2 separate regions of the Homo sapiens genome follow, and region 2 is linked to region 1. The links come from fine-mapping of genetic effects on gene expression. A gene starts in region 1. The other region holds a variant in brackets. All regions are shown on one strand. Distances are from middle to middle.

Region 1 (8,914 bases):
ATCTTTCCTCAAATGTCACCTCAGTGAAGGGCTCCTTCTCACCACCACACCTGCCACTAAGCCACCTAGTCCTCTTTCCCAGCATTGTTTTGATAGCAGCTGTCACCTTCCAACAGTTAACTCCATTTAACTGAGCTATGTTATTTATACCCGGCTCTCCCACTGCACTGTAAGCTCTGGGAGAGCAGAGATCTAGGTCTATTTTGTTCACTAATATTATCTCCAGCACCTGGGGCTGTTCCTAACACATACTATGGGTTGAATACATATTTGCTGGATCAGCAAATCATCAAATTCTCAAAACTGGTCCAAGAAGCCCATTCTTTTCTCCTCAAAGAGAATCGTGCTAAGCCAAAGATATCTCCCCATTTGCCATAGCTACTTAAACCAAACTCAACCGCTTTGTGCTACAGATACAGACACTGATGGCCCCAGAGGTAACTTGGTGAAGACCACTACCGGAAAAAGAAAGTTAAAATCTGGACCACCAACTCCTAGTCCTCTGACTAGGAGGGTCTATCTACCACACCACACATCCTGGCTCATCCAGAAACAAAGTTTCTAGGAAAGCGTCAGCCACATATGCAACCTAAGGACCAGGGTGTGCATAAACCGAGGGTCTACCAGCAAGACCACCTCTCCTGCAGTTTATAGCCCTGGCCAAACCACTCACTCTCCAGGCTAATCGAGGAGATAGTTCGGAATAAACACCAGGTATCGGTACTGACAATGCAAGAATGAGAAAGATACTTTTCCTAAACCTGTGGATCTCACTAGTGAAAGCAAGCACATACCAGGGAGAACAGGAAGCCAGAGGCACCAACAACACTGAGTTTGATGCAAAAAAGGGGGACTTTAGTTCAGGCTGCATAAAAACAGGAGGTGTGGGCCGGGCACGGTGGCTCATGCCTGGAATCTCAGCACTTGGGGAGGCCAAGGCGGGCGGATCATGAGGTCAAGAGATCGAGACCATCCACACCAACATGTTGAAACCACATCTCTACTAAAAATACAAAAAAATTAGCTGGGCATGGTGGTGGGCGCCTGTAATCCCAGTTACTTTGGCAGCAGAGGCAGGAAGATCACTTGAACCCGGGAGGCAGTGATTGCAGTGAGTCTAGATCACACCACTGCACTCCAGTCTGGGCGACAGAGCGAGACTCCATCTCAAAAATAAAAAAGAGTTGAACTATCTGAAAGATCCCTTACTAGTCTTGTATTGTACAGTGGGTGTAGTCTTCCTCCTGAGTTTCCTTGAGATGAGGGCTGCACTCAAAAACAAAGAGGAAAACAAGGCTGGGTGTGGTGGCTCACGCCTGTAATCCCAGAACTTTGGGAGGCTGAAGCTGGTGGATCACATGATCAGGAGTTCAAGACCAGCCTGGCCAACATGGTGAAACCCCATCTCTACTAAAAATACAAAAATTGCCGGGCACAGTGGCTCAAGCCTGTAATCCCAGCACGTTGGGAGACCGAGGCAGGAGGATCACAAGGTCAGGAGATCGAGACTATCCTGGCTAGCACGGTGAAACCCCGTCTCTACCAAAAATATAAAAAATTAGCCAGGTGTGGTGGCAGGCGCCTGTAGTCCCAGCTACTCGGGAGGCTGAGGCAGGAAAATGGCGTGAACCCGGGAGGCGGAGCTTGCAGTGAGCCGAGATCGCACCACTGCACTCCAGCCTGGACAACAGAGTGAGACTCCGTCTCAAAAAAAATACACACACACACACACACACACACACACACACACACACACACACACACATAAATTAGCTGGGCGTGGTGGCCAGTGCCTATAATCCCATCTACTCAGGAGGCTGAGGCAGGAGAACTGCTTCAACCGGGACCCAGGAGGTGGAGGTAGCAGTGAGCTGAGATCATGCCACTGCACTCCAGCCTGGACTACAGAGAGAGACTCTTGTCTCAGAAAAAAAAAAAAAAAAAGGAGGAAAACAAGGCCAGGCATGGAGGCTCACGCCTATAATCCCAGCACTTTGGGAGGCTGAGGTGGATGGATCACCTGAGGTCAGGAGTTCGAGACTAGCCTGGCCGACATGGCGAAACCCCATCTCTACTAAAAATACAAAAAAACAGACAGGCGTGCTGGTGGGCGCCTGTAATCCCAGCTACTTGGGAGGCTGAGACAGGAGAATCACTTGAACCTGGGAGGCAGAGGTTGCAGTGAGCCAAGATCACACCACTGCACTCCAGCCTGGGCAACACAGTGAGACTCCATCTCAAAAAAAACAAAAACAAAAACAAAAACAAAAAAAGAAAGAAAACAATCATGGGAAACAATTGAAAGAGCTGCCAAAGCCACAGGAACCTGGCTAGGATCTCCACTAGCACTGTGCTTGCATAGGTGTGGACTAAATAAATACGCAGCTAGTGACCAATCACCACTACTGATAGGAAAACGGGCACCCCTCTGTGACTCCTCCTTCAGGGAAGAGTTCCAGCCTGCCACCTGAAAGAGCAGCACTGCCAGAGGCTTGAGCCACAAGACGGATGGGAGACACAGAGGCTTCACAGGCCTTCCTGGTGCACCCAACCTCTCCTTCTTCTTCTGCCCTCTTCAGTGACAGCCTCGAACTCTCCAAGACTCCAACTTCACAAAGGTAATACAGAAGCTGCTCTCAAAAGTGCCTAAGACACAGAATAGCATCAAAGTCAGAGGAAAAGGAAAGCTGGTGTTCGGTATTTCAGGTTCACACAGAAGAAAGCTGGAGACTGTATTAGTCTCCTGTGGCTGCCATAACAAATTACCACCAACTGAATGGCTTAACACAACAGACACTTATTCTCTCTCAGTTTTAAACGCCAAAAACCCAAAATCAAGTGGTCATCTGCAGGGCCATGCTCTCTGTCAAGTCTCTAGGTGAGCATCCTTCCTTGCCTCTTCTAGCTTCTGGTGGCTGCCAGCAACCCCTGGCTTTCCTTGGCTTGTAAATGTACTATTCCAATCTCTGTTTCTGTCTCCATAGGGCCATTTCCCTGTGTGTGTCTCTCTGTATTCAAATTTCCCTCTTTTTATAAAAATACTAGTTGACGAACTAAGGCCCACCCTCATCCAGTATGACCTCATTTTACCTTGATTACTTGTGCAAAAACCCTATTTCCAAATGTCACATCCATAGTTTCCAGATGGACATAAATTCAACTCAGTATAAGGACAAATTACCAAGAGCCACAGCCTTCAATCCAAAGGTTGAGTCACTGCTGTAACTCCACACAGCAGCTCTGTTATTCTTACATCTAAGCTGATTAAGAATTAGAGTTTAGACTGATGAGGAACCAAAACCTTAAGACCTAAAAGTAACACATAAAAGTTACACTGTCATGTGGCTCCTCTTCCCTGGACTCTTATGTTCTACAGCATTTGTTCCTGTCACTACCAGGACCTCCTACCCACCACCATTCCAGAATCTTCACTCACCTTGGACCCTGACACTGGTTTTGTTGAAAGGTCTTACTGTTCTCGAATCAAGCACGGTCCTGTGGAGTCGAATAGGGTCTCCGGCCACCTTTGATGACTCCCTTCATTCTCAAAGCCACTGTCTGAGCTGTCAGTAACTCACGCTGCTAACCCCCAGATCACTCTTAAAAGTAAACTTTCCTTTTTTTTTTTGAGACAGAGTTTCGCTCTTATTGCCCAGGATGGAGTGCAATGGAACGATCTCGGCTCACTGCAACCTCCACCTCCCAGGTTCAAGTGATTCTCCTGCCTCAGCCTCCCAAGTAGCCAGGATTACAGGCATGTGCCACCATGCCCAGCTAATTTTGTATTTTTAGTAGAGACTAGGTTTCTCCATGTTGGTGAGGCTGGTCTCAAACTCCTGACCTCAGGTGATCTGTCCACCTCGACCTCCCAAAGTGCTGGGATTACAGGCGTGAGCCGCCACACCTGGCCAAAAGTAAACTTTTCTAACTGGATGCAGTAAATTCCAAAGTTTATCATTCAAACACTCAAACAATAATATTTATTATGAAACAGGAGTACAAACCATTTTACTGTGTTTATGAATGATTCTACTCAGACTTATCTTCGTAACACAATTCATAATTTTCAGCATTCCAGACTTCAGCTTTGGAACAGAACTATGTTCTGAAATCTTGACGTTTGCTTATCTCTGATCTGTTTTCACCAGTGGCTGATTTTATCCTAGGTACCCTCCACGTAATGTCTCATTCCCTAGGGCCCTGGCATAGCTCAGCGCCACAGCAATCAGACAAGGACTCTGGAGCTCTGGAGCTGTATAGCATCTAGGGTGTACCCAGGTCATTCCAGCCGAAGAAAAAAAAAAAAAAAAAAAAAAAAAAAAAAAAAACTTCCTGCTAACACAACATAGGAGGTGGTTTTGACACCAGCAAGCAGAAACATGGAAACTCACAGGGAAACTCTAGTCCTCTTCTATGCTCAAGGCAAGAGCCGCAGCCCTCAAGAGACCACAGGCAAATCAAGTGGGTCAAAAACACCACACCCCCTGCAGAAACTGATCCACCCAGCAGACGGGGGGCCTCAGCCCGGCCAGCTTCCGGACTCCACCAAACTTCACAGCATGACCCGAATCAGTTCCTTCCAGCCTCCCCAAGGAGCCCAGGAGTTTCTCGGAAAGAAGCCTGCCAGTGTCAGGAAAAACGCCAATAGCTCCTCCTCGTCCTTGCAAGCCTCGATCCTACGTGCAGCCACTGTCACCCCCAGACCCCACGCTCCGACCTCCGAGCCCCCCAACGCCCGTCACACCATCCAGCAGTCTCCTCAGAGTCCAAGTTGCCCTCTCCAGACCCCCGACTCCACCCGCAGCCCAGGAGGCCAACGCGGCCACCTGACCTCTGACCCCTGACCCCGACCTGGCCCTCCGCGGCACACCCACCTGCCCGGGAGCTTGCTGTTGCTGCGCTTCCAGAATTGCTTCCTGGCCCCGTCGCTGGCCATGGCCCCTCCTCATCCCTCAGACCCGCGGCCCAGACACCCCGAGTGCACCCGGCCCTCCCCTAGCGGCCCTTTCCTGTGCCCCGGGTGGCCCCTCACTGCTCCCGGGACTCCAGAGCCTAGAGCCGAGAAGCTCTTCCGCCTCCTTCCGGAAGTTGTGCCTACGCGCGCCCGGAAGTCCCGCCTAAGTCCCTGGTGGCGAGTGACGCAGCACTCCGAGCGCCCGTCGTTATTAAAGGGCGACGCCGCGCAACGCACGTTACACGCATCGCGGAGGGAGCGGAGGTGGTTGGGTTTCTGAGTTTGAGTCTGTCGCTCCTGGCTCTCCCGACACAACAGCGGCGCCCACCTGCCCGCAACGGACTCCCAGGAGCCTCGAGCTCCTCATTTCCAAAGCTGAACTGCCCCGTGTCTGATTCCGATTTCTCTTGAGCGCGTTTCGGAGCCGGCCCAGAACAGAGGGAAGCCAGACACACCATACCCGGCCCAACAGTGGCAGGGCGGCTGCGGGTGCTGGTCAAGCTGGGTCACCCGGCACTGAGTGACGATCAGCAAATACTCAGTGGACGAAATATTTGCAGTGCAGTGAGGTGAGGGGCATAACCGCGGAGCGTATTCGAAGAGATGAGAGAGACTGGGGATTAGGCCAGGCTTGAAGGGAAGAATGGTTTGAGCACCGAGGACAAGAATTAATTCCCCAGGCCTGGGTTCCAGCCTTGTGCGGCTATCACGTGCTTGAAACCTGGCTAGTCCGGAGTGAGATGCGCTTTACGTGTAAAATACAGGATTCCAAAGACGTCGTATAAAATAATTTGTATATTGTTTGCATGTTAGGTAACATTTTTAATGTATTGGATTAAATAAAATGCATTAAAATTATTTTTACATTCCTTTTACTCTTTTTAAAATTATTTTTACCTTTTTTATTCTTTTTTTCCGGGGGGGACTGGGGGTGGGTGTCTTGCTATGTTGCCCAGGCTAGTCTCGAACTCCTGCCCTCTAGTGATCCTCCTGCCTCACCCTCCCCAGTAGTTGGAACTGCAGGTGCACACGTTATGACTAGATCTTTTTACTGTGTGTGTGTGTGTGTGTGTGTGTGTGTGCAGAAAATCACTAAAAAAACCGTGTCTGGTTTGCATTACATTTCTGTGCTTCTTAGACCAAAGATTGAATGCTCAGGGACTGTCATTTCAGACTGGAGCTTTAGTGTATTTGGAGCTCCTGCCAGTTCTCTTTTAAAACAAAAATCTAAGACATATTTTCTGATTAAGAATTTCCCTGGAGGCTGAGGCAGGAGAATAGCGTGAACCCGTGAGGCAGAGCTTGCAGTGAGCCCAGATCGTGCCACTGCACTCCAGGCTGGGCGACAGAGCGAAACTCCGTCTCAAAAATAATAACAATTTCCCATGCCTCTTCATTTACTGGTAAGTAACATTGACTTAGTACTTACTATGTGCAAGGCGTCCTACTCTCCTAGAATCCTCTCCTAGTAGGGCTCAGAAGGCCCCAGGGGTCTCCTCCTGACAGAGCCCTGACAGCCTCAGACAGTGAGGTCCCCTACAGACAACACTGAGGACCATGGCGGTTCTTTCCAGCTCAGTCTGGCTTATTGCAAGAACCAGTGAGCGAGGTGACAGCAGGATTAACCTGATGGAAGGGGAAAGGAAGGAAGAACTGAAACAATTGACAGAGGAAAAACTGGCAGCACTTAGTGACTGGTTACACCTTAGATCCGGGTGCTTTTTATAGCTTACCGTATACTTTGCTAGCTACTGTTTTCAGGCGAAGGAGTGAGGCTGAGATTGACTTGAAGGCTTCAAAACCAGCTAAGCAAAGGATTACTAGGATCACAACAGAAACGTGAAGATGGAAAAAGAAAGTCTGAGTAGAAGGCCAGTTTTGAAAGCCAAAGTAATACAGATGTTGGAGTCTACATATGGGACCTAGGAATTGGGACAGATTCTCAAATCCCAGAGGTATGGAATGGAACATTTTTTATTCATTTTTGCAACAAGTATTGAGCAGCAATGCAAATTAAAACTAAGGACATACCATGTTACACTTAACAGATTGGCAAAAACTTAAAAACCTGTCTTTACCAAACTTAATAAGGATGTGGATTTGTGAGCAGAGCAGAACTCTCTTGCACTGCCAGTAGGAGTGTACGTTCATTCACTAACTTTGGATGGCCACTTAGCAATTTCTAGCAAAGATACTCTATAACTTAGCAATTCCACTCTTGGTATGTGCTCTAGAGTACCTTGCCTATGCGTGCAAACACAAGAATGTTCAGTGCAACGTTGCTTCTAGTGGTAGTTGGGGTCTGGGGGAGAAGCAACCAAAATGCCATCTATGGCAGAATCGATAATCTACACAGTTATGCAGTAGAATACCATAAGTTAGTAAAAATGAATACATTAGTTGCATACATCAACATAAATGAATTTTGCAAACTGTGGGGTTGTTTTTGAAATGGGGCTTACTATGTTCCCCCGGCTGGCCACAAAATCCTGGGCTCAAGTGATCCACCTCAGCCTCCTGAGTAGCTGAGTACAGATGCAAGCACTACCGCACCTGACTCCACAGTGTTGAATGAGAAAAAGTTGAATATTAATTCACATGGTATGATACCATTTAGTACTATTTTCTTTTAAAGGATGAGAATGCGACCAGGTATGGTGGCTCATGCCTGTAATCGCAGCACTTTAGGAGGCTGAGGCAGGAGGATCCCTTGAGCCCAGGAGTTTGAGGCTGCAGCAAGCTGTGATCATGTCACTGCACTCCAGCCTTGGCGATAGTGCCAAACCCTATCTCAAAAAAAAAAAAAAAAAACCAGAATGGTAAAAGATAAATTCAGGAGGGTGGTTGCCTATAGGTACAGGTGGGGACTGTGAACAGGAAGGAATTCATTCATAGCGGATCAATTGTGCTATTATGCTTTGTTTCCTAAGGCAGATGGGCTATATTCAGGTGTTGGTTATATTCTTTATGAGTTTTTACATGTATAAAATGTTTCATAATACATTAAAATATAGTTATTGAGTTTGAACTGTGCTATGCACTGAGCTACATTGAACTACATGATAAGGCAAACAAAAGTGCAGCAGGCCAGGCACAGTGGCTCACACCTATAATACCAGTACTTTGGGAGGCTGAGGCGAGAGGATCACTTGAGACCAGGAGATCAACACTAGCCTGGGCAACATAGGGAGACCCCATCTCTGTGAAACTTTTTTTTTTTTCTTTTAGCCAGTCATGGTGGTAAACACTCTTAGTCCTAGCTACTTAGGAGACTGAGGCAGGAGGATCACTTGAGCCCAGAAGTTCAAGGCAGCAGTGAGCTAGGATCACACAACTGCACTCCAGCCTAGAAAACAGTGAGACCCTGCCTCAAAAAAACAAACAAAAAAAAATTGGGATAGTATTTCAGGATGGCTGGATTTGCAATGCCATTTGGGTTCCTCGGGAAGTGTTTTCTGCTTTCTTTGCTTTCAGATGGCCTGCTCCGGGCTTAGAATATCTCTCACAGGACCTTACTGAGTGAGCTGCCACACTCCCACTTGGTGGGTTCTGCCTCCTAAGTTTCCTGGTGCTGTACCGTCCATAGGCACCGAGCCTGTGCCCCAAAGTAAAAAGCTGACTGTTCTATCTGTATTGGTTTCCTAAGGCTGCTGTTGGCAGAATGCTGCAGACTTAGCGGCTGAAAACAATACACATTTACCCTCCTACAATCCTGGAGGTCAGAAGTCCAAAGTCTTAGCACTTCACTGCACTAAACTCAAAGCGTCAGCAAGGCTGCCCCCTTCTGGAGGTTCTAGGGGAGAGTCAGTTTCTTACCTTTTTCAGCTTCTAGAGGCCACTTAACATTCCTTGGCCGACACTCCTTCCTCTGTCTGGAAAGCAGATCACTCTAATCTCTACTGCCATCATCACATCATCTTCTCTCCTTCCGATTCCTCCTAGATCCCTCTGACCTCACGT
Region 2 (8,914 bases), 410 kb before region 1:
GGCGTCATGCTAAGAAAGCCTTTTACCATTCCCAATGATAAAAATAGCCATGTATTTTTGAGTATTTGGGGGTAATTTTTATATTTACATCCACTTATCTGGAAGTTGAATATAATTTTTTTTCCTAAAAGAATAATCAGGCCGGGCGCGATGGCTCACACCTATAATCCCAGCACTTTGGGAGGTCGAGGTGGGCAGATCAGTTGAGGTCAGGAGTTCGAGACCAGCCTGGACAACATGGTGAAACCCCGTCTCTACTAAAACTACTAAAAAAATTAGCTGCGTGTCATGGCGGGCACCTGTCATCCCAGCTGCTCGGGAGGCTGAGGCATTAGAATCACTTGAACCCAGGAGGCAGAGGTTGCAGTGAGCTGAGATCACACCACTGCACTCCAGCCTGGGCCACAGAGCAAGACCCTGTCTCAAGAAATAAAAAAATAAAAAAAGAAAGAATAGCCAGCCTCATCTTGTCAACAAAATGGACTACGGCTGGGTCACTCACACAGGACCATGTAAGCGGCCGTGTGCCTCCTGGGTGGAGGCCATCCTGTGCTGGGGACCCTCCATGCCAAGGAGCTGCAGGGTGGGTGTGGAAAGGCCTCACAGCTGAGTGGGGGCCACCCCAAGCAGCCCGCAATCCCGCAGGGCAAAGTGCAGAGCCAGAAGGAAGCCAAGGGGCTGGGGCTGAGAGAGGAGAGGAACGGTGGGGTGGACTGGGGCTGGGAAGGCCCCAGGGAGGTCCACACCCCGAGGGGTCTGAGTCTTGGGCAAACTCCCCAGGACTGCGGCCGAGAGCAGATCACTGGGGCCACAGGGCTGACGAGGAGCCTCCAGCTCTGGAGGACGGCGGCATGGAGGCTGGCATGCTGCAGCCTGCGATGGCGCGTGTCATTCTGCAGCCTGTCCCCAAGTCCTCAGCGGAGTGGGTCTGCTTGAACACAGACAGTATTCCTCCTGTTTCCATCCATCGGTGACACGGCACAGAAGCGTCCCACCTCCTAGTTCTTCCAAAAGTACAAACCACAGAGACTCTCCATCTCCTACTCCCCAGGACCCCAATGCTCCCCGACGCGTCTGACCTTGCCAAGGGCACAGCAGTGGTGCCAGCAGGCCGAGCCTCTCCCTGGGACCGGGCAGGGTGAGGTGCACAGGACAGCAGCCACCACAGGTCAGGGATTGATTTCAGGACCCCTGGGCTCGGGCCACCCACAGGAGCAGAGTCTGCACAGGCTGTGAAGACCTCAAGTTGGGCCCGAGGAGCCAACTGCTGAGCTGCAAACTCCGGGGAATCGTGAAGGTGAATGGCAGTTGCTGGGCTGTGACCTGGAGTCAGGAGCTGAACACCTGGTGGCTGCTGGGGACAGCCGATCTCCGTCCTGCAGCCTACGACCCTGCAGACCACAGCCAGGCAACAGTGAGGTCAGCCCATGTGCCGGGCCACCGGGCCCAGGAAGGCAGCCCTGCCTGGCTCAGCTCCGCACTGGGTCACTGTGGAAAGAGAGGTGAAGAGGCTACTCCCACTTTGTGGAGCCACCAGCCCACCCGTGGGGACAGGAGCACACCCCACACCTACGGGGACAGGAGCACACCCCACACCTGGTCAGTAGTGCGCACCCCACACCCGTGGGGACAGGAGCACACCCCACACCCGTGGGGACTGGAGCACACCCCACAGCCGGTCAGTAGTGCACACCCCACACCCGCGGGGACAGGAGCACACCCCACACCCGCGGGGACAGGGGCACACCCCACACCCGCGGGGACAGGGGCACACCCCACACCCGCGGGGACAGGGGCACACCCCACACCCGCGGGGACAGGGGCACACCCCACACCCGCGGGGACAGGGGCACACCCCACACCCGCGGGGACAGGGGCACACCCCACACCCGCGGGGACAGGAGCACACCCCACACCCGTCAGCGGACAGCACAAGGCAGTGGAAAGCCAAGTGCTGCCAAGGGAGGGTCCCGAGGGTGGGGCACCCAGGGGGGTGTGGGGTACCTGAGGGTGGGGCACCCAGACGGGGTTACTCAGAGGGGTGTGGCGCACCTGGAAAGCTGCCCTGAGAAACTGAGGCCCTTTGAAGGGCCTTGCTTCAGTAACACAGGGCAAGGAGGGTGTTTCAGTGTGTGGGTGAGGGTGAGGCAAGTGTATCCCAGGAGAGGCGGGGGGGACCCCAGACCCTGGTGCCTACCCCGGAACAGCCCTTTTCAAAGCAGGTGCTTGACAGATGTGGCCCAAGGGGAGGTCCCTTGTTCAGGAGCCTGACAGGGGCCAGCCTGGACCCCACACTCCCGTGTTCCAGCTAGTGCAGAGCCGGGCTTCGGGGGTCAGACTGGTTTCTGAGTCTTGCCCCGCCCGGGCAAGTGGCATCCCTGCACCACCTGAGCAGCTGCAGCCCCATCTCCCTGAGAGGTCCTGCGGGGGGCAGCGAGATCACGGGTGCTGCCGGGCCCACGCTGGTGCGCCGCAATGGCCCTGAGCTCAGACCCTCGGCAGGGCTGGGCCAGGGTGCCCCTGTCCTCGATGGGCAAGTCCTCGAATCACAGGCCAAGGCCGCGGCTTTGTCACTGATCTTTATTCCGTGTTTTTAGCGCACCACATCCAGACAGCACACCCCGAACATTCCAGATGGATCTGCTCAGACTTAAGGCCCGCGGCCAACACCTCTCACATTCAGTCTTGGCGTTTACATACATGAGGAAATGCACACAGGGCTGAACTCCGTGGAGCTTCCTGTTTAAAACATCAACCACCTCGAGAAGCAGGTCAGTTGTGTCCGCAGCCTTCTGGCCACACGGCATGATCTGAGCTGGAGAAGGGGATCCTCCCAGGGCTGATCTCGGCAAAGCGACATGGGGCTTCCTGCACACGGCCGAGGGGCGGCTCTTCTTGTGACGGAATCCCCTCCCCATCTAGAAAAGGAGGCGGCAGGAGGAGGAGGCATGGCTGGTCTGAGGAACCCTTGACCCTGGGGTGGGGACACGGAAGGCAGGGGTAAGGCGTGCCCGCATCTGATGTGAAGCAAGCCCATCCCTTTGCTGGTTTGGGAGCATCTGACGTTTGCACAGCATTTTGTGCTAATTTCCATGCTGTGTGTAATGACCCTGGATTTTTAAAACAGAAGCAGAAACACACACATCACTTATGCCTGTATGTCCCACAGTCTCTGGCAGTGTCCTAGGGCCTGGGAGAGGACACGGCTGCTCCTGAGGGACAGAGGAGAGTCTGGGAAGTCAGTCACCAGTGGGTCGCTGAGGACGTGAGCCTGTCCTGGGCTCAGGGATCAGACAGACTGTGGCTGTGGCCCTGCCCGCATTCCAGGGGTCATGCAGCCTGTGACACACCGAGGGAACGCTGGGAAGCCAGTCCCAAGGCCCCTGGAGCCAAGGACACAGCCCTAGCAGGGCGCTGGGCAGGGACCAGCTCTGGGCCCTTCCGCACTTAGAGCCCCAAGGAACCAGTCCACAGCGGGAACCAGTCCAGGGCAGAACCAGTATACAGCGGGAACTGGTCCACGGCGGGAACCAGTCCACGGCAGAACCGGTCCAGGGCAGGAGTGGTCCA[GGGCAGGAGTGGTCCAT/T]GGCGGAACCGGTCCATGGCGGAACCGGTCCACGGAGGAACCGGTCCATGGAGGAACCGGTCCATGATGGAACCAGTCACACCTCCCCTACACCTGGCAGACCTGGACAAGGACAGCAAGTCCCAGGAAGTCTCCAAAAGCTCATTCCGCTTCCAGGCTGCGGTGAGAAGAGCACTGTGGTTCAGGGCTTTGATGACAGGGACGCGACCCCCTGCCCGTCTGCCAGCCCAACATGGCCCGACAGCCTGGGTGGGCCTCCAGGGGCTCTGGCTGAGGCCGGCGCCTACCTGCGTGGCGGGGCCACTTGGCCCTGGACCTCAGGGAGGTGGGGGTTTCTCTCTTGTAAAAGAGGTTCAAGGTGGAAAGTAAGGCGATGGCGAGGCCTCCCTCTGCTCCCAGCCTTTGGTCCCACGGCCTCCCAGGCACTCGGCGGGCTCACGGCTTGGACTCCAGCCTTCAGCTTCCCAGCCACGTTTAAACCAAGCAAGCAGGAAAACACACGGAGGGAAAGGGCCAGCAGCAGTGAAATACAGCTGTGAGGGGACCTCGCGGCACAGAGACCCCGGGTCAGCGCAACGTCTCGGTCTAGATTTTGTCTACATTTTATTCTTTCACTCAACAGAATAGAAGTTTTGCATTTCAGAGTAGGTATGAGATGGCCACTACCTCGTTCCGGCCCTGGCACCCAGACAGCAGGACTCCAAAGAGGGTCGGCCTCCTAGGCTGCCCCGGACTAGGGGCAGCACGAGGCAGTCATTTGGCAAGGACATTGCAGGGAGAGGGAGAGGGGACCCCTGACCTGCCTCTGGCCGCCGAACCCGGGGCCCTCCCCTGGCTCTCTTTGGTATCTCAGAAAACAAAGGCTGTCCCTGTCTTTGTCAGCCCTAGACCAGGTCTGTGGCCCATCTTCACCAGCTCCCCTGGAGGGTGGGGCCACCTCACAAGGCCTTTTAGCAGCCCGGGACCAGCTCACAGGGGCCTACCACCAGCCAGGCAGGTGGGGCGCGCCACCCGGGACAGTGAGGCCAGCTGCGGGTGGGCCTGGGCTCATTTCTTGTAGTGATTGGGGGCGTCGGCAAAAGCAAACTTGAGGCGGTAGGCCTCGGCCAGCAACAGGCTGATGTCCTCATCATCCCAGTGGGCTGTGGGCAGGTTCTGGAGGAAGAGCAGCAGCTCCTGGGGAGAAAGAGACAAGCCCAGGTCAGAGGAGGTGACCCACGGTGGAGGGCGGGTGACCCCAGAAAACTGGAGGGAAAGATACAAGCCCAGGTCAGAGGAGGTGACCCACGGTGCAGGGCGGGTGATCCAGGAAAACTGGAGAGAAAGACACAAGCCCAGGTCAGAGGAGGTGACCCACAGTGGAGGGTGGGTGACCCAGGAAAACTTGCCCAGCCGGCAGCTGCTCCCTGCTCAACCCCAGAAGGGCCCCAGGCCTCGCCCCACGGCCACCGCCCCATCCCAGCAGCCAGGCAGGAGGCCCACTGCGCAGCTCCAAGTCCGGCATCTGAGATGTCGTGGCAGGGGCCGCCCAGAGCTTCATTTAACTGAATCCCCTGCCCCTCAGGGGGAGACCCAGCTCTCGGGGCCCTGCTGCAGCTTTGCAGCCTCCGCCCAGGAGCTTCCCACTCCCACAAAGCCTGTATCAGCCCAGGAAGTACCGCAGCACCCCTGGAACTGCCACTAAGCACAGATTTCTGTGCACCAGGAGACCCCTCCGGGCACCAGCACCATCAGCAGATGAAGCCCACACGAGGGGATCACAGAACGGAGCCGGCTCAGGCCCACCCCGGGAGCCCAGGAGCACAGCAAAGCGCCAACTGGCCCCTCCTGCATGACCACCTCACACCAGTGGGTTGGGGTGCAGGGCTCCACCAAACCCAGCTTCAGGTCTAGGTCCAACCTGGTGCCCTGGAACAATGACTCCACCCCGAGGCCCAGCTTCCTCCTCTGCAAAATGGGGCCACCATTTATTTATTTATTGCTTTCTAATGTGCTTATTTGCCTTAGACTGAGATTTAAAAATTAATTCCAGTTACAACCAAAGAAGGCCTTTCTGTGGAAGTGACATTTGATCAGACTCTTAAAATTCAGGTAGGATTCTCATAGGTAAAGATAGGAGGTAAAAGGTTTTACATAAAGGTGAATGACATGCATGTAAGTAGGAAAATAGGGAACTATAGGGAATAAGCAACAATTATAAGTCGTTCAGTGTGGATAAAATCATCTTACATGTGTATTTTTAAAATCTCGCCTCCTGTACCCTTCATTCTCCCATTCTACTTCCCAGTCACAGCATTTATTGCATTGAATTCACATAGTACAAATTTTTATTTACTGTAGTAAATTACTGTCAGGGCTGCTGGACAGACTGGGAAAACACACATACGGCCAGCAGTACAGCCAGCACTGGGTGGGCACACAGTGGGCTCCATGGGCATGCTAGGTAGACACACCAGGCTCACTGAGCGGGCACACTGGGTGGACACACAAGGCTCACTGGGCATGCTGGGTGGGAACACCGGGCGGGCACACCGGACTCACTGGGCTCACTGGGCACTCTGGGTGAGCACACAGCTCACTGGGAGTGCTGGGTAGGCTCACTGGGAGTGCTGGGTAGGCTCACTGGGAGTGCTGGGTAGGCTCACTGGGAGTGCTGGGTAGGCACACTGGGCTCACCGGGCGCACTGGGCAGGTGCGTTGGGCTTACTGGGAGTGCTGGGTGGGCTCCTCTGGCCTGCAGCTGGGCCGTGTCTCAGATGGGCTATGGGGGCACTGAGTCCCACCCCCAAAAGACACATGGGCGACTGTCTCCAGAGCTCATGGTCTGGAGGCCGGGATGCGGACACTGAGGAGATGGAGACTGACCTACGTCCACTGAGGCCACAACGGGGAAGGAAAAGCACAGGTCCTCGGGGGACCCCCCACGACCACCGCCTGACAGCCCCGCCCTCCCACATGACCACGCCCACATCCACAGCTGCTGGCAGCCCACCAAGGGCAGGGCAGGTCTCCGGGGACCCCAACACACAGAGGGCTTGGCAGAAGTAGGGATCAGAGAGGGCTGAGTGGCCAAGACAGCCTCCTGCAGTGGGGGTTCTCAGAAGAGAAACAGGGGACCATCAGGTCAGGGCCAGCCCAAGCCCAGGCTCTGTCATGAAGCTGGGCAGACTCCCTGAGGGAGGGGTCTACACTGCTCAGATGGCCCTGTGGGCTCTGGTCCTCGAGAATTTGCCCCCAGGGGGCCACCTGCAGGCTCCCCGGCTTCTCCTACCTCCCACCCCAAACAGAAGCTGGATCCAGGAAGTCAGGAAGGCGGCTGAGGAGCCCTCAGGGTGCTGGAACTGCCCTTCCCCACTCCTAGCAGGTGACAAGGGACAGGGAGGGCCACAGGCTCGGGATGCCCATGTCGCCTGCCTCGAGAAAACGCAGCCCAGCAAGACTGGCATGGAGGGGAATGGGGGGTAGCTGGGCTCTGAAGTTCACATCCTGTCTTCCTGTCCAGGTGGTCTTGGGCAGTGGGCCTGGCTCTCCAAGCCACACTCTTCTTCATCTGGAGATAAGGATGGCAGGCTCTCCACATAGGCACAGCCAGGATGAGCTGAGCTGTGCAGGCACAGAGCCTGGACAGATGACCTGGGCTCACATCCTGGCTGTGCCGGAGGCTGCCGTCTGCATGTTGCCCCACCCTCACTGAGGCAGGCCCCCCGGCCATCCCGGAGCTGCGCTCTCCATTTCCGAATCAGGAAGATTACACACCAGGACTGCCCTCTCTCCGGTCCTGCATCAGGAGGGTTACACACCAGGACTGTCCTCTCTCCGGTCCTGCATCAGGAGGGTTACACACCAGGACTGCCCTCTCTCCGGTCCTGCATCAGGAGGGTTACACACCAGGACTGTCCTCTCTCCGGTCCTGCATCAGGAGGGTTACACACCAGGACTGTCCTCTCTCCGGTCCTGCATCAGGAGGGTTACACACCAGGACTGTCCTCTCTCTGGTCCTGCATCAGGAGGGTTACACACCAGGACTGTCCTCTCTCCGGTCCTGCATCAGGAGGGTTACACACCAGGACCGTCTTCCAATTGCTATTTCGCAGTTGCTGGGCTTCCACCCCCACTTCCTCAATTCCATTTCCTTTCGCATTTTGGATACTTTCAGTGGGCCTTTAAATTGAATTCAGGGAGCGAATTTCACTGGCTAAAAGTCCCTGGGGACATATCAACATCAATCTGCTGTCTTTCACCATTAGATGCAACTTACATGGATGCCAATCCAATTCTGAGCAGGTCATAAATAAATACCTTTGGTTTTATTTTTAATCCACTTCGCTTCATATTATCATGACCTCGCTCCTTGCAAGGTGAGAAGCAGTACCCTCCCATTACGGTAACTCACCGACTCTACTGCACACTCAATTTCAGAATCTAATTTAGTCCGCCAGGTTCACTGGATGGAGGGAGAATAGAAATGCCCAGTTCTTCGCAGCCTGCAATGCTAAAGAAGGAAAAATCTATCTGGGTGACCTTTACGGGAGGAGAAGAACACAGCCAAACACATCCTTAAATACAGATTTCTTTTTTAAAAAGGCTTGTCTTATTTATGCACTAGGCCACGTCGTCTCCTGTCTGGGAAACGCGGCACATTTATTAGCCAAGAGCTGTTCTGCATCACCCACACCAGGCAGGCAGAGGGGCCACCACGGGCGAAGCCATCCCTCGGTCACATTCAGGGACATGGCTCTCCCAGCAATGACGGTGCTGCCTGTCCAGGAGGGCAGGTGGAGAGAGGCCTGCCCAGGGCCCAGCCCAGAAAACTATAGACGGCACTTGCATTTTCATTCTTAACTTTTCCATAAACAATTAATGGCCACATCTGTGGATCTAAAAGTTAAAGGAAGGCTCTGCTCATCACACTGATGCTGTAGAAGTCAAGGTCGCGTCAGGTCTGCAATCCGTCCCTCCCCCGGTCCCTGGGGCACCACCATCTCAACAAAGCCACAGCCAGAGGGCAGCGTGGAGTGCACCCTGCCTTTCTCCATCAGCCTGTGTGCCGAGAATCCTTCCAGTGGACACCGAGTGTCTGCAAGGGCCCTTTGTAAAGGCTGTGGGGTCTGTGATCAGTGAGGGATCAAAAGCAACAGAATCAGACTCTCGCTGCATGGCCTGGAGGTTGACGGTTCTCAGGCCTGACCACATGTCCATCAGCACCCAAGGAGCTCAAAAAAATGCCCCATTGTCCTGGCCCCAGCCCAAGCAACTGACCTGGGATCTGGGAGGTGGGGCCTGGGGAGAGGGATGTGTTGGTTCTCAGGATGGTGGGCGACTTGGGTG

Direction of the effects. Alleles are on the strand shown, and positions count from the first base shown. SD is a standard deviation of normalised expression in the study named.
In carriers of allele GGGCAGGAGTGGTCCAT in region 2, the expression in nucleus accumbens of the gene that starts at base 5,073 in region 1 tends to be higher than with T alone (moderate effect, 0.43 SD a copy in GTEx).

What was found. PIP is the estimated chance that this variant, and not a neighbour inherited with it, causes the effect.
Region 2: its variant is fine-mapped to the expression of TBC1D22A in nucleus accumbens (GTEx, PIP 0.92).

The regions. Positions count from the first base shown.
Region 1 is chr22:46,758,809-46,767,722 of GRCh38, reverse strand. It overlaps TBC1D22A (TBC1 domain family member 22A), which reads right to left and starts at 5,073. Exons shown (of 13, transcript NM_014346.5): 1 at 4,875-5,073. The coding sequence starts at 4,936. It overlaps TBC1D22A-DT (TBC1D22A divergent transcript), which reads left to right and starts at 5,195. Exons shown (of 1, transcript NR_186691.1): 1 at 5,195-5,812. RefSeq lists enhancers at 3,356-3,405, 3,426-3,505, 3,546-3,615, 4,546-4,625, 5,326-5,455 and 1 more and a silencer at 4,366-4,425.
Region 2 is chr22:47,169,346-47,178,259 of GRCh38, reverse strand. It overlaps TBC1D22A (TBC1 domain family member 22A), which reads right to left. Exons shown (of 13, transcript NM_014346.5): 13 at 2,567-4,762. The coding sequence ends at 4,634. Among named protein-coding and RNA genes, the nearest start is that of TBC1D22A-AS1, 260 kb to the right of the region's middle. RefSeq lists enhancers at 1,319-2,409, 6,507-7,006. The variant GGGCAGGAGTGGTCCAT/T (reference allele first, on the strand shown) is at 3,571.